2 linked regions of the Homo sapiens genome follow. The protein of the gene in region 1 purifies or fractionates together with the protein of each later gene. This does not show direct contact. Each region holds a gene or a part of one and is shown in the gene's direction. Other genes may lie near its edges.

Region 1 (5,440 bases):
TGCCAGCATCCTGCTTCCTGTACAGCCTGTGGAACTGTTAGCCAATTACACCTTCTTTTTTTTATTTTTATTTTTATTTATTTTTATTTTTTGAGACAGAGTCTCACTCTGTCACCCAGGCTGGAGTGCAGTGGCTTGATCTCTGCTCACTGTAACCTCCACCTCCTGGGCTCAAGCGATTCTCCTGCCTCAGCCTCCCTAGTAGCTGGTATTACAGGCGCCCGCCACCATGCCCGGCTAATTTTTGTATTTTTGGTGGAGACAGGGTTTCACCATGTTGGCCAGGCTGGTCTCGAACTCCTGACCTCAGGTGATCCACCCACCTTAGCTTCCCAAAGTGCTGGGATTACAGGCGTGAGCCACCGCACCTGTCCTACACCTTCTTTATAAATTACCCAGTCTCAGGTATTATTTATAGCAAGGCAAGAATGGCATAATACAGCAGTAGAATCCTATTATTTCAAAATATGGATGCAAAGGCCTGAAGAAACAGCTAAAAGGCTGGCAAAGGTTTGACTCTAGGATGTGGGGCTCAGGGGCTGTGAGGATGGGGACAGAGAAGGCTGTTTTTATTATGTTTTGTAGAATTGTTTGACTTTTTAAGATTAGATTCAAATAAAACTAAATGGCCAGTGCAAGCTAATACTATCCTTATGGTCCCTCCCTTTTCCTACCTCTCCCTAGCCTTCCTCTATCACTCACATTGGAAAGTTACAAAGGTTTGGGGATGTGAAAACTTTTTTCTTCAGAGAATGCTTGCCTACTGTAGCCTTCTGAAATGCACAGAGGCAGGGCGAGATGGTAGCCTTTGCTTTCCTTAGGCAGCCCCACCATAGTGACATCATATTTGTCGTTCTAGGAAAAGTCATTGGAAATTGAAATGTTTGTTCCTTTGGTAGGATACACCATAAATACCTGCTTGACACTTGGCATTTGTTTCACTTAAAAATTATTTTGTTCTGGCTGGGCACAGTGGCTCATGCCTGTAATCCCAGCACTTTGGGAGGCCAAGGTGGGTGGACCACCTGAGGTCAGGAATTCAAGACCAGCCTGACCAATATGGTGAAACCCCATCTACACTAATAATACAAAAATTAGCCGGGTGTGGTGGCATGCACCTGTAGTCCCAGCTACTTGGGAGGCTGAGACAGGGGAATTGCTTGAACCTGGGAGGCAGAGGTTGCAGTGAGCTGAGATTATGCCACTGCACTTCAGCCTAGGTGACAGAGCGAGACTCCCTCTCAAAAAAAAAAAAAAAAAAAGGCTGGGCGTGGTGGCTCACGCCTGTAATCCCAGCACTTTGGGAGGCCGAGGCGGGCGGATCACAAGGTCAGGAGATCGAGACCACGGTGAAACCCCATCTCTACTAAAAATACAAAAAATTAGCCAGGCGCGGTGGCGGGTGCCTGTAGTCCCAGCTACTCGGGAGGCTGAGGCAGGAGAATGGCGTGAACCCGGGAGGCGGAGCTTGCAGGGAGCCAAGATTGCGCCACGGCACTCCAGCCTGGGTGACAGAGTGAGCCTCCGTCTTAAAAAAAAAAAAAAAAAAAAAAAATTATTTAGTTCTTCCACGTGATACATTGTTGCATTGACTTGACACAGTGAAAGTCATTGGTAAAAATGTCCTGGAAGGAACTCACACAGCCAACATGTTTTTCCTTTCCAGGATTCAGAACTGGAGTTTCCTGAAAGACTATGACCCAATGGTAAGGTAAAATATGTTCCTGCCAAACATACTTGCAATTGAATATTACTCATTCTTTCCATCATTCAACTAACATTTATTGAAGATCTACTCTACACCAGATACTGGATGTGCAGCGATGAGTCAAATACACTCTTGTTTCAAGGAATGCAGGGTCCGTTGGATAGAAAACAGTTACATGAAGCATTTAGAAATGTGTTTCCCTCAGTGTTTCTTAATTTTATTAAGATGAACCAATTGGAAATGACAGGCATCTGTTGCTGAAATGTCTCCCCTGATTGAGGATGGCAGCAATATGTAGTCATATCTGTGTGGCGTGCCCGAGAAGGACAATGAGATTGGGTAAAAATACTTTGTAAACAAATTCCCTGACTCTGGTATCACCACCTCCAATCCATCCTCCACATTGCCACCAGACTAATTTCCCTAAACGGCAGAACTGGCCATGTAGCTCCCCTGATTAAAATGCTTCAGTAAGTCTGAAATTTTCAGGTGGCTTACAAAGCCTCCTGTGATCTAAACCATCTATCTCCCCAGCCTCATTACCCACCCCACACAGACCCCACAACACACTTTTTTTTTTTTTTTTTTTTTTTTTGAGATGGAGTCTTGCTCTGTCGCCCAGGCTGGAGTGCAGTGGTGCAATCTTGGCTCACTGCAATCTCCACCTCCTGGATTCTAGTGATTCTCCTGCCTCAGCCTCCTGAGTAGCTGAGATTATAGGTGCACACCACCATGCCTGGCTAATATTTGTATTTTTAGTAGAGAGGGGGTTTCACTATGTTAGCCAGGCTGGTCTCGAACTCCTGACCTCAATTAGCCAACTGCCTCGGCTTCCCAAAGTGCTGGGATTACAGGCATGAGCCACCACACCCAGCCCCCACAACACTCTTTTATCTATGCCTTTGGGCATGCTCGTCCCCTGCTGGAATGTCCTTCCACCTGGTCAGCCTGATGGACTCCTATTCACTCTTCAAGATCCTGCTCTAGTGCCCCCTCTTCTAGGGAATCTCACCTTCCTGGGCAGGCTTGACCAGATCACTCCTTCCTTTGATTCACCAGCATATCTCACCCGTTATTTTGGTATTCCATGTAATGTAATACTGCAATGCCCAATTTCACCAGCTGTGAACTCCTTAAGAGAAAGGATGAGGCCAGGAATGGTGGCCCATGCCTGTACTTGGGGAGGCTGAGGTGGGAGGATCACCTGGACCCATGAGTTCAAGACCAGCCTGGGCAACATAGGGAGACCCTGTCTCTACAAAAATAACATTATTTTTTAAAAAGAGAAAAGATGAATATGAATTCATCACTGCACCCTATCACAACCCTAGCATTTGCCCCATCCCCCAGAGACCATAAAAGAGTGAACATTCAGTTCATGCTGGATGAATGAATGAATGGAAAGATGGATCTCACTACAAAAAGGATGATCAGCTGGATGCGGTGGCTCACGCCTGTAATCTCAACACTTTGGGAGGCCGAGGCAGGTGGATCACCTGAGGTTGGGAGTTCAAGACCAGCCTGACCAACATGGAGAAACCCCATCTCTACTAAAAATACAAAAATTAGCCGGGTGTGCTGGTGCATGCCTGTAATTCCAGCTACTCGGGAGGCTGAGGCAGGAGAATAGCTTGAACCTGGGAGGCAGAGGTTGCAGTGAGCAGAGATCACGCCATTGCACTCCAGCCTGGGCAACAAGAGCAAAATTCAGTCTCAAAAAAAAAAAAAAAAAAAAAGATGGTCAAAGAACCAACCTGGAAGATGAGCAATATGGAAAGTCACTCGAGGGGGTGGCCATGCTTACCTGGACCCTGCCAGGTTGAGGAAAGTTTTAATGCCTGCATTGTGGACCTGCTGGACTTGTTGCTGTCTATTCTGGAGGGAAAATTCAGCTCATGGGACCTGATATCCCGACCTGTGCATCTGGTCTGGGCTTCCAGCCTGTAAGAGTCTCTCCCTGCTAAGGGCTACATGATAGCAACCTGACTACTGAAATCTGCATCATGGCCAAAGGGTGGAGCCACCTCGGCATGGACTTTGCCAGGTGAAAACCATGATCTCCTTACTTGACAGGTCATGTCATTTCTATTAGACACAGGGTAGCAGAAAGGTAACCCTAAACAGGGGCAGGAAGAGCTGAGGATGTTTTCCCACTTGTCAGATTTTTTTTTTTTTTTTTTTTTTTTGAGATACGGTCTCACTCTGTTGCCCAGGCTGGAGTGAAGTAGCATGATCATGGCTCACTGCAGCCTCAACCTCCTGGGCTCTAGTGATCCTCCCACCTCAGCCTCCTGAGTAGCTGGGGCTTACATGCACGTGCCCCCACACCCAACTAATTTTTGTATTTTTTTGTAGAGACGGGGTCTCACCATGTTGCCCAGGCTGGTCTGAATCTTTCCGCCAAGGCTTCTCAAAGTGCCAGGATTAAAGGCAAGAGCCATGGTGCCTGGCCATCAGATTACATTTAGTCATTCATTCATGCATGCATCCGTTACAGAGTTTACCCAAACGCACGTTCACATATGGCCAAAACAGCACTACTCATAAAAGCCCCAAACTAGAATCAACCCAAGTGTGATCAGTGGTGATACAGGTGAATAACTTGTGTGATATTCACACAGTTCACACCATGGAGTACAGTTCACACCATGGAGTACAGTTCACACCATGGAGTAACGTACAGCACTGAGAATGAATGAACGGCAGCCACACTCCAAAGCTGAATGAATCTCACACACATAATGTTGAGAGAAAGAAGCCAGACAGAAGAGCCATGATTCCACTAATGTAAAGTTCAAAACCAGGCAAAGCTAATGCGTGGCATTAGAGGTCAAGGTCAGGGTGCCTTGGGAGCAGAGACAGGGGCTGAGGGGCTGAAAGGAGGTGGGGGAGGGGATCATACCCCTTGATCTGGTTGGGCACATGGGCATCTTCACTTTGTGAACATTTGTCAAGCTGGACAGTGATGGCTTGTGCGTTTTCTGTGTGAATGTTATACTCTTAAGTACAAATTTACCAAAAAAAAAAAAAAAAATCAAAACCTCCCACCAGATGTAAAGTGGCATCTTAGTCCTGGGGATAGAAAGGGGAATAAGACCTGATCCTTCCCTTGATCTCTGCAGGTCGCAGCATGAAAGTTAAGGGATCTGGGAGGCACCTGGGGAAGGGGAAGTGGAGGAAGAGGAGGGACAAGCTTGGCAGAGGCTGTGGCATCGGGTCACTCTTGGGGGATCCCAAGTCCAAACCAGGATTGAATCACCTGGAGATGCTTCACAAAGAGAGGCAGCTGCTCTCTGCTCTGTTTTCTCCCATTCTAAGGTCCTCCTTTTTCCACGCTCTGTGTGACCCGAGCTGTCCCCTCTCCTCAGGGCAACAAGAAGGAGCCTGAGAAGTTGCCAGACCATGTGCCTCTCTTTTCGGACACAGTTCCCAGTTCCACGAACCAGGTTGTGGGCAGCAGGCTGGACACACCCCTGGGACAGACTCTCATCCGCATGGACTTCTTCTTCACAGAAGGGGCCCGGAAGAAGAAGCTGGAGGACCAGATGCAGCCCATCTAGGAGCAAGGAGGGCTGGGCTGGCCTTCCCCAGGTGGGTGTGGGTGGGGACAAGAGACCCAGCCCACAACAGCACCAGTCAGCTCCCCACACAAGGCAGCTTGGGTCTGCACTGTCTGTAAGCTGCAGGACACTCTTCCAGGGGACCCAAGGGGTCACTCTTACACACTTTTTA
Region 2 (5,440 bases), on another chromosome or scaffold:
AGGCTGGAGTGCAGTGATACGATTTCCACTCACTGCAGCCTCCACCTCCCAGGTTCAAGCAATTCTCCTGCCTCAGCCTCCCGAGTAGCTGGGATTACAGGCACATGACACCACGCCCAGCTAATTTTTCTATTTTTTTAGTAGAGATGGGGTTTCTCCATGTTGGCCAGGCTGGTCTCGAACTCCTGACCTCAGGTGATCTGCCTGCCTCAGCCTCCCAAAGTGATGGGATTACAGGCATGAACCACCATGCTTGGCTGTTTTGGGTTTGTTTGTTTGTTTGTTTGTTTGTTTGTTTTGAGATGGCATCTCACTCTGTCTCCCAGGCTGGAGTGCAGTGGTGGGATCTCAGCTCACTGTAACCTCTGCCTCCCGGGTTTAGGTGACTCTCGTGCCTCAGCCTCCCAAGTAGCTGAGATTACAGGCATGCACCACCACACCTGGCTAATTTTTGTGTATTTAGTAGAGACGGGCTTTCTCCATGTTGGCCAGGCTTGTCTTAAACTCCCAACCTCTCAGGTATGAGCCACCACACCCAGCCCTATTTATTTGTTTTGTTAGAGTGGCGTCTTATCAGACTTTACCCTACGGTTCATATATAATTTAGCCCTACTACTATCAAATACTTTGCTTATTATAAGGTCTCTTGAGTCTGGCTAGTGGAAATGTGAACTACTCCTATCCCTGTGTGACTTTAGGATTTATTCATATACTACTTTCTGGTAGTTCTTTCCCTAGCCTCCTGGAGTTTCACCCTTGTCATTACTGAGCCAGAGATTTGGGGTACAGGTCATGTGTGCTCTGTCTCTGAGTGTGGAGCTTTGTCCTTTCCAGCACTCTGTTCTACAGAGTTTTGCTGCTTGACCACCCTAAACTATGATCTCTGTTTCAACAAAACTGCTACTTTGTCTTTGGCTTACTCTTACCTTCATTGCAGTCTGTAAACTGCCCTCATTTGAATACTTTCTCTCAGGGAAATACTTTTCTTTCACCTTCCTGAATTGCCTGTTATCCAGGGCCTAAAAACAGTTATCTTAACCATTTACTATACATATTACATTAATTTTTATATTTTCTTTTTTTTTTCCAGAACAATATAGCTGAAGTACAAGAATTACATTCTGAATTAATGTGGAAAGATTTTATAGACCACATCAGTAGTCTCCTACACAGTGTGGAAGTGGAAGTCAGTTACTTTGCAGCTGGAATTATTGCCCATTTAATATCCAGAGGTGAACAAGCTTGGACATTGAGTCGTAGCCAGAGGAATTCTCTGCTGGATGATTTGGTAGGGTCATTCCATACCAACAAAAGACATTCATAGTGGTTAAACTATCAAAGCCTCATAATGTAGTAAATAATGCAGTGCTAAATAAATATTGTAATCCTTTCTTGTGTGTCTTTTGTCTTCCAGCATTCAGCTATTTTGAAATGGCCAACTCCAGAGTGTGAGATGGTAGCATACAGGTAATTAGTATCATAATTAACAGTAAACCAGCAACCTAGTCTAGAGATCATTCCTAAGAGTCATTCCTACTAGATGCATAATTTTTCCCTCAGGCACCTCAATATTGGTTATTTATTTATTTATTTTGAGACAGAGTTTCACTCCGTCGCCATGGCTGGAGTGCAGTGCATGATCTTGGCTCACTGCAACCTCCACCTCCCAGGTTGAAGCAATTCCCCTGCCTCAGCCTCCCGAGTAGCTGGGATTATAGGCGCCCACGACCACGCCCCGCTAATTTTTGTATTTTTAGTAGAGACGAGGTTTCACCATGTTGGCCAGGCTGGTCTTGAACTCCTGACCTCAGGTGATCTGCCTGCCTGGGCCCCCCTAAGTGCTGGGATTACAGGCGTGAGCCACCACACCCAGCCAAAAGTATTGGCTTTAAAAGAAGCAAAGTATTTTGACTTTTTTCTACCACCTATCACTCTTCATGTTTCCTTCATTTCACATTTGTTGAAGACAAGTGCTAGGAATTTGTTCTATGCTCTTGAAATACAAAAATGAACAAAGACATGGTGTCTGCACACAAGAATTTTATATCCTTGTGAGGGAGAGTGAATGTGGATCAGATAAAATACCGTTATGCCAAATGTCCATAGAATGTTATGAAATTAAAGGTGAAGCCCAGTGGGGTAGCACATACCTGTAGTCCTGGGAGGATCACTTGAGCCCAGGAGTTTGAGGCTGCAGTGAGTTATGATTGCATCACTGCATTCCAGCCTGAGTGACAGAGCAAGACTCCAAATGTAAATACACACACACACACACACACACACACACCTTTCAGAGGAAGTGAGTTGTGACCTGAGTGTTGAAAGATAAGGAGAGGCAGGAGATTTTTAGGAAGAAAAAGCATCGTATTAATGTAGGAAGGTCTAAAATAAAATGACACATTGAAGGAATTAGAAGTAGCACCAGATTTGGGCCAGGCATTGTGGCTCATGCCTATAATCCCAGCACTTTGGGAGGCTGAGGTGGGTGGATCACTTCAATCCAGGAGTTCGAGACCAGCTTGGCCAACATGTTGAAACCCCTGTCTCTACTGAAAGAACAAAGTTAGTGGGGCATGGTGGTGCACACCTGTAATTCCAGCTACTTGGGAGGCTGAGGCATGAGAATCGCTTGAACTTGGGAGGTGGAGGTTGCAGTGAGCTGAGATGGCGCCACTGCACTGCAGCCTGGGTGACAGAATGAGACTCTCAAAAAAGGAATAACACTAGATTTGGTTGGGGAAACAGTTTGTAATAATTTATTAAAGGGCATACTGGGCCTGGCATGGTGGCTCACACCTATAATCCCAACACTTTGAGAGACTGAGGTGGTAGTATCACTTGAGTTCAGGAGTTGCAGACTAGCCTAGGCATCATAGTGAGACCTCATCTCTACTAAAAAATAAAAAAACCTGGGCATGATGGCATACACCTGTAGTCCCACCACTTCGGAAGGCCAAGGCAGGTAGATCACTTGAGCTCAGCCTGAGCAACATAGTGAGACCCCGTCTCTACAAAAAATAAAAAATTAGCCAGTTGTGGTGGCACATCCCTGTAGTCCAAGCTGCTTGGGAGGCTAAGGTGGGAGAATCGCTTGAGCCTGGAAGGTTGAGGCTGCAATGAGTTGAGATCGCCTTACTGCACTCCAGCCTGAGCAACAGAGTGAGACCCTGTCTCAAATAAATAAATAAATGTAAAAATAAATAAATAGGCCGGGCATGGTGGCTCATGCCTGTAATCCCAGCACTTTGGGAGGCCGAGGCGGGCAGATCACGAGGTCAGGAGATCGAGACTATCCTGGCTAACGTGGTGAAACCCCGTCTCTACTAAAAATACAAAAAAATTAGCCGGGCGTGGTGGCAGGCGCCTGTAGTCCCAGCTACTTGGGAGGCTGAGGCAGGAGAATGCCGTGAACCCAGGAGGCGGAGGTTGCAGTGAGCTGAGATCGCGCCACTGCACTCCAGCCTGGGCGACAGAGCGAGACTCCGTATCAAAATAAATAAATAAATAAATAACAAAAATTAAGAAGTGCATACTGGATGCCTAACTCTGTTTGTAATTAGATAACTTGATAATTAAATTACTAATTACCTGAAGTATTTAATTTTTATTCAACTTATTTTTTTTGTTTGGTTCATAAATGCTGATGTTGCCAACATTTTTTTTATTTCTCCAACTTATGTTCCACCTATTTTTATTCAGACCAGTAGAAAATAGAAGGGATAATTATACATCTTTTTCATAGTGTTCTACTAGTTAGTTATCACCTAATTTCTCTATTTCTTAGTTTCCAAACCAAGATCTACTTATCTTCAAATGTGTATCTTTAAGACTAAAAAGTGCTTTTGGAAAAATTTTTTCTCTTTCACTACCATGTTCTAATCACCTTCCATCTTCTGTACTGAGTCATGTCTGAATGCAGTCTTCTCTGAAATGGTTAAGACAAAGAAATGATATTCTATAGCTCATTTATATTAGTCTAAATATAATAGGATAAAATTTTGAAAATGAAAAGTTTAGGAATCACTGCTTTAGGAAATTACGCTAAATATGGGATGTAACTTTGATTCTTTTCTTTTGAACCTTTAGGTCCTTTAATCCATTTTTCCCATTACTTGGCTGTTTCACAACACCAGGAGTTCAGCTATGGGCAGTTTGGGCCATGCAACATGTCTGCAGCAAGAATCGTATGTACCAAAAAAAAAGAACTGTGTTTTTTTTCTTTAAGTGAAATTCTCATTTCCCAGGAAAGATATTTCTAAATTGTGTATTAAAGTGATTTTTAAGAACACTGACTTAAAATGTAAGGCCATCTTAGGTTATAAACTTAAGGTATTCTTTTTTTTTTTTTTTTTTTTTTTTTGAGACGAAGTCTCGCTCTTGTTCCCCAGGCTGGAGTACAGTGGCGCGATCTCGGCTCACTGGAACCTCCGCCTCCTGGGTTCAAGCGATTCTCCTGCCTCAGCCTCCCGAGTAGCTGAGATATCAGGCACCTGCCACCATGCCCGGCTAATTTTTGTATTATTATTATTTTTTTTTAGTAGAGACGGGGTTTCACCATGTTGGCCAGGCTGGTCTCAAACTCCTGACCTCAGGTGATCCGCCCGCCTAAGCCTCCCAAAGTGCTGGGATTACAGGCATAAGCCACTGTGCCCGGCCAACTTAAGGTATTCTTTCAGAATGAGCATGGTGTAACTAGACACTGAATAATAGTGGTGAATGAGACACTGTTCTCACCTCAAGGAATTTAAAGATTAGGAGACTACAGTGAGTCCATTTGTTGAGTAAAAGGTCTTAAGTAGATCCACTGTTTATGGTACATTCCGGTGCCCAATTCTCATTCACCCAAAATTCTGTTGTTCAAGATGTCGCTGCCAGCACCCATGGTTTCTGAAGAAGCAAAGTGTTTGAATCAGGTTCTATATTATTCTTTGAAAGCTACGATGTAACTCTTATTTATTTATTTAGAGACAAGGTCTGTCTCTATCACTGGAGCTGGAGTGCAGTGGCATAGTAACAGCTCACTGCAACCTTGACGTCCAGGCTCAGATGATCCTCCTGCCTCAGCTTGTAGCTAGGACTACAAGTGCACGTCACCATACCTGGCTTTTTTTTGTATTTTTTGTAGAGATGGGGTTTCATCATGTTGGCCAGGCTGGTGTCAAACTCCTAGGCTCGAACGATCTGCCTGCCTCTTCCTCCCAAAGTGCTGGCATTACAGGCGTCAGCCATCAAGCGTGGCCTAATTATTTATTAATATAAACTCATTCCACAAATGATTTGACACAAGAAATACACAGAACCACTTTAATAGTAAAGTGTGTATATATATGTGTATATATATATATATATATATATATATATATATATATATTTTTTTTTTTTTTTTTTTTTTTTTTTTTTTTTTTTTTTTGAGATGGAGTCTCACTTTGTCACCCAGGCT

Evidence for each region. The genes of interacting proteins can lie anywhere in the genome.
Region 2: the proteins of CIMIP5 (region 1) and ZYG11B purify together in Homo sapiens (affinity purification with mass spectrometry; one large-scale study listed by BioGRID and IntAct). This does not show direct contact.

What each region holds. Positions count from the first base shown.
Region 1 is NC_000002.12:11,138,844-11,144,283, forward strand, and holds part of CIMIP5 (ciliary microtubule inner protein 5), read left to right. Parts: intron 1-1,666; coding exon 1,667-1,706; intron 1,707-5,076; coding exon 5,077-5,268; 3' UTR 5,269-5,440.
Region 2 is NC_000001.11:52,812,446-52,817,885, forward strand, and holds part of ZYG11B (protein zyg-11 homolog B), read left to right. Parts: intron 1-1,090; coding exon 1,091-1,288; intron 1,289-1,414; coding exon 1,415-1,467; intron 1,468-4,086; coding exon 4,087-4,184; intron 4,185-5,440. UniProt on the Homo sapiens protein: Serves as substrate adapter subunit in the E3 ubiquitin ligase complex ZYG11B-CUL2-Elongin BC. Acts to target substrates bearing N-terminal degrons for proteasomal degradation with the first four residues of substrates being the key recognition elements.